2 separate regions of the Homo sapiens genome follow, and region 2 is linked to region 1. The links come from fine-mapping of genetic effects on gene expression. Tissue or cell type: whole blood. Region 1 holds a variant in brackets; the other region holds the start of a gene. All regions are shown on one strand. Distances are from middle to middle.

The links. PIP is the estimated chance that this variant, and not a neighbour inherited with it, causes the effect.
Region 2: it holds the start of PTPA, and the variant in region 1 is fine-mapped to the expression of PTPA in whole blood (TOPMed, PIP 0.98).

Annotation. Positions count from the first base shown.
Region 1 is chr9:129,147,438-129,150,193 of GRCh38, reverse strand. It overlaps PTPA (protein phosphatase 2 phosphatase activator), which reads right to left. Exons shown (of 10, transcript NM_178000.3): 10 at 1,248-2,756. The coding sequence ends at 2,730. Among named protein-coding and RNA genes, the nearest start is that of IER5L, 29 kb to the left of the region's middle. RefSeq lists enhancers at 1,136-1,636, 1,671-1,770. The variant T/A (reference allele first, on the strand shown) is at 1,668.
Region 2 is chr9:129,110,274-129,112,773 of GRCh38, reverse strand. PTPA (protein phosphatase 2 phosphatase activator) reads right to left here and starts at 1,359. Exons shown (of 10, transcript NM_178000.3): 1 at 1,143-1,359. The coding sequence starts at 1,173. It overlaps CRAT (carnitine O-acetyltransferase), which reads left to right and starts at 1,981. Exons shown (of 14, transcript NM_000755.5): 1 at 1,981-2,291. The coding sequence starts at 2,265. RefSeq lists silencers at 1,046-1,095, 1,786-2,225 and enhancers at 623-1,163, 1,096-1,375.

The sequences.
Region 1 (2,756 bases):
GGTTCTTGGCTGCTCGGCTCCCTGTCATAACTCCCTTCCTGTTAGCGACACCAAATGCAGCCTAAATTGGACCACTTCCCACCATCCCACTCTGAACCCTCACCCAGGCCACTATCCCTGTGCCCAATCACAACTACAACCTCCCAAATGGTCCTATCTCCCCTTCTCCCCAACAAAACCTTCCAGCACCTTCCCATAGAACACTGTCCAAACTCAGCAGAGCCCGCAAGGCCCCGGCCTAAAAGTCTGGCCCCTATACCCAACCCTAGCCCTCCAGGCCCAGGCCTGAGCTCTCCACAGCGGCTCTTTCTTGTCCTCAGGGTCTCAGCTCACAGGACCTTTTAGAGCAAGTAACCCCCTGCCCTGCCCCCATCAACGCCTTCTCTAATTGACGTTATTTTCTCCATAATCCACCGGCTACCTAACACTGTCATATCTGGGTGCACTGCAGTCATGAGGAACATGCAGCCACTATTTGTGAAATGAAGGAATCCTCAAGACCAATGATAGGAACGTCATTATGCCCATTTTTCAGATCAGGAAGCTGAGGCTCAGAGAGAAGTCAACCATGAGGGCCCTCTACTTCCTGGTGAGTAAGCAGCAGCTGCTCAGTTTGAACTCGGGTGTGCCTGAGGCAGCGCAAGGTGATGAGGGGCTGAGGCTTTCCAGTCCATGCAAGGCCTCTAAGGCCAAGAGAAAGGTCAAGGACCCTTGTTCTCTGAGCAAGAGTGTCTTAAGGAAGTCTGGGGCACAGCAGCCCCAGAGACCCTCAACTCCAGCCCAGCAGGGACAGGAGGGGCAGAGGAGGGAGAATAGAGGGCCACCCCCTCACAAACCACAGGTGCATGTTCCACTGTCAAAGCCCATCCAAAGGCTCCCTGGCCAGCTTGGGGCTAAGTTGGGAGTCCAGAGGGGCCCCCTTCACCAAGCACAGCTGCAGTGACCACCCGGGATATGCTATGTGCCAGGCCCTGAGCTGAGGACTTCACATCTGCTGTCCACTGCTGGCAGTCACCCTGTGACTGTCCCCATTTTGTGAATTGAGGAAGCTGGGGCTCAGGGGCTTCAGTAACTTACAACCTTGCAGCTGGGACTGCAGACAGCTAGGATTTAAACCCAGGAAAGGCTCAACCCAAATTGAAACAGCTCGTCTCAGACACTGTGGCCTGAGAGAAGGGGACCTGATGGAGGTCAGTCATGCAGAAATGGGTTAAACATGTGACATGAAAAGACATACCTCACACAAGTGACAGGTGCAAAACAGAGGCTTTAATCTGAACAGCAATGAGGGTGCAAGGGGCTGGGAGCCCATAGGGGGATGGGGGAGCCAGGAAGGGCTGTCTGGCCCTGGGAGAGAGGTGGACGCTGGGCCTCTTCTGAGAAACTGTCACTGACCTTTGGGACTCCTGACCCAGCCTCTGCCCAGACCATCACCGGATCCCAGGCTGAGCCCCTGTGCTGTGCTTCTCAGTGCTCCCCCTTCCTGAAGGGTGTGTGGACCCAGACACAGGAGGGGGCAGTGGAGAAGGGCAGGCCTGGGGGACGAGCCTGTAAGAGCCAGGCCCAGGAACAGCCCTAGGAGAAACCTCGGCGGTGGCCCTCAATGGGCCTGCCCAGCCCCCACTGGGCCCATTCTGAGTGCCAAAGCCTGGGCTTGGGAGGCTGTC[T/A]CTTACCTCACCCTATAAAAGCAATGGACAGTTCAGGGAGGTGGGAGGACAAGGTGTGGGACTGCCACCTTCTGGGCCCACCCATCACCCAGGGGAGCAGAGAAGCAGGGCCCAGGGGCCCAGGGTGAGGCTCACAGCAGCGCAAAGGTAGCAGAAGTGGCCGGGCCTAAGACTGCCAAGAGGAATCCAGGCTCTCCAGATACAATGGGCCCCAAGCCCCTCCCTGAGTTTCTGCCATCCCCTCCCTGCCAGGGAAAGTTCTGGAAAGACATGCCTCACCCCATCATCTGGGCCCTCCCAGGAGCCCAGCACCTACCCAAAGGGCAGCTTCCATTGGCTAGGTTACCCTTAGGGAGCGGGAGAGATGTGGCTACAGTCAGGAAACCCAGCAGAGCCAAGGGCTAGAGAACTGAAGAGCCAGGGGGAGGCTTGGACACAGGGGGCCTCAGGCCCAGGGGGCAGGGTGAAAAGGAGCCTGGGAGGGGCACCAGCCAGGACAGCTAAGGCCTCTCCACCACCCGACCCCACCCACCCCACCCCAGCCCACAGCTGGCGGCCAGCCTCAGCTTCCAGCCCTACCATAGATGGCCACCCCGGCATGGCCTGGGAAACTGACCCGCCCCTGCAAGGAGCAGCTCCAACCCTTAGAAAGGCATCGACTCCAGGAAGGGAAAAGCAATGGAAGCAGCAGGTATCTCTCCTCCCTTCCCTGCGGTGCTGCAGAACAGCCCCTGCTCTCAAAACCAGACTGGACGGGAGTGAAGGGAGAAGAGGCCAGAAACAGGAGAGAGTGGCCGAGTGACCAGGCCCCAGACCCTCTCTTCTGGCCAGTCTAGCACACGGGAACTCAGAAAACTGGCTACACTTTGGTCACTTCTCCCAACTTGGGCCCTGAAGCCTTATGCTCTGAGCCCCCTCAAGCCCATCTCGCCACCCCACCCCAGTAAACAGCCTCTCATCAAACGGGACGAACAGAGGGAGGGGATGGGGAGGGGCCACTGCTGGGGTGGGGAAGGCAGGCACAGGAACTGTGGCCTGGGTGGCTCTTCGGCTTGGCCCCTCCTAGCCCGACGTGACAGGATGGATGGG
Region 2 (2,500 bases), 37 kb after region 1:
GACGGAGTTTCTCCATGTTGGTCAGGCTGGTCTCGAACTCCCGACCTCAGGTGATCAGCCCGCCTCGGCCTCCCAAAGTGCTGGGATTACGGGCATGAGCCACCGCGCCTGGCCTGGACATCCTTGTTCTAAGGGCACACACCCAGAGGTTTTGTACAAAATAAATGTCTGGTTTTGAATGTCCTAAGAAACGGAACCCAGCTCTTTGTTCACCTCTTTTGTGGGGCATGGAGGGGATGCCTTTTCTGATTTTCAACATTTCTCCCTCCTGAGACCTTCCCAGGGACCCCAACATTGGAGACAGGATAGCAAGAATATCAAATGCTTTCAAAACATTAGCTGTGTTTGGTCGGCCAACCTATTTGCCTCTGTCGGGAATGTAAAAGTTATCTATGGCCAGTCCTTCTTAGTTCAAGGTAGGTCGGCAAACAGCCTTCTCCTTCTGCACAAAAAGGGTCTCTAAGATCCTTCCGTAGCACCTCCATCCCAGTTATTTAAGATGAACTAAAAAGAGGCTACAAGGTAAATAAGAGTTACCGAAGGAGATGCCGGAGAGACTAACCTCCTTGCACAACCAGCCTTTTAAAATTAGGGATTTAGACACCACGGGCAGTTTCCCTCAATAAATTCTCAGGCACTGGAACCAGAGAGTAGGAGGATGAGGGGTGAGCAGGACGCGGAGGCCGAAACTGGAGGCGAGGCGGGCGCAGGCCCACGGAGCACCACCCCATCCCCTAAGCAGCGACTAATAAAGACGGCAGCCTCCGGAATCACTTTCGCCCCCCTCCCTGGCAGCTTCCCCACCGAGTCAGCAGCTTACTTAAGCACGCGCTGCCCAGAGATGCAAAAGGCCCCCTTATGACCACGGCGCTGCCCACCCAGCATTCGGGCAGCCTGGACTCCCACAAAACCCAGAGTTGCGCCCCAATCACCACCCCTTTGCAGCCCCTGGTTCCCTCCCCAGCGGCGCCCCACCACCCACCTCTCCCCTAAGGCCATTCAACTCAGTCCCTCCTCGGGGCCCCTCAGCTTTTGCCCCTCCAGTTCCTCCGTGTCATGACTCTCGCCCTCCTGAGCCTCCCACACCTGGCACCGCCCCCACCCTACCCGACCCCGGCCCGGCCTGGCCCCGCCGGCCTTACCTGGCGGCGGCTGCCGCTCGCCCTCAGCCATCTTGCTCCGGCCAGGAGCCGACCCGGATGCTTGCAGTCCCCTCTCGCCTTTCACTCTTGCACCCACCCTTCCTCTCCCCGGCTCCACCAAAGGCTCCGAGCTTCCTGAAGACAAGTGAGCGCCGGCCGGCTATAACCGAAAACCGAGAGTTAAAGTCACCACAGCGAAGACGGCCGCCATGTCGGTGCGGGGCGCTCAGGGAGCAAGCCTATTAACGGCCGGCGCGCGGCGGACGCGCGGAACCGGGCGACGGCCATGTCAGTGCGGGGCGCGCGGGGCGCATGCGCGCCAACGGCCGCCAAGCGCTAGGACCGCTCACGGCCGCCCGAACGTCGGGCGCCGCGACTGCCACGATTGTGCGGGGCGTCAAGTTTGGGTTGTGCTCAGCCATGTTTTTCCGGGACAGTCTCCTGTCCCGGAGTACCACCTGTCATCTTTGTGGGTGGTACTGACCCTAACCCAAGGAATATTAGAGGACATTCCCCGGTCAACATGGTTGTGTTTTCCTATCACTCTAAGAGTTAGGCTCAAGGACACCAGACGGAGTTGGAAAGGTGCACACCACTACCTCCAACAGCTTAGAAGACATGTGGGGACAGGGGAGAGACAGCTGGACGGTGACCTCCTCCTTCCTCCTCCACAGGTCTCAATGACTCGCCCTCGGCCCTGCCCCTCTGTCCCCGCCCGCCGTGGTCCCGCCCCCGACTCGCAGCCAGCCTACTGCGACCCGCTACCGGGCGACGCCCCGCCCCTCCGTCCCCGCCCCTCCTGTCCCTCCTCAAGGAGACTCCGCCCCATCGATGCCCCGTCCCCGCCCCACAGCCAACCTCCCGGGCACCGTTGCCCGCCCGGGGCCCGCTACCGGCCCAGGCCCCGCCTCGCGAGTCCTCCTCCCCGGGTGCCTTCCCGCAGCCCGCTCGGCCCAGAGGGTGGGCGCGGGGCTGCCTCTACCGGCTGGCGGCTGTAACTCAGCGACCTTGGCCCGAAGGCTCTAGCAAGGACCCACCGACCCCAGCCGCGGCGGCGGCGGCGCGGACTTTGCCCGGTGTGTGGGGCGGAGCGGACTGCGTGTCCGCGGACGGGCAGCGAAGATGTTAGCCTTCGCTGCCAGGACCGTGGTGAGTGCGGCGGATCCCGGGCCTGAGGGCCCTGGACGGCCTGGGCGGGCCGTGCGGTTGCGTCCGGGAACGGAGACCGCGTCCTGCGGCCGCTGTTCGACCCGGCCTCCAGCTGATGGGGTGGGGTCAGGCGGGCGTCCCAGGTTTGGCAGAGCAGGAGATTGGGGCGCAAGGTCAGAAGCGGGATTAAACCCACGTCCTGGAGCATT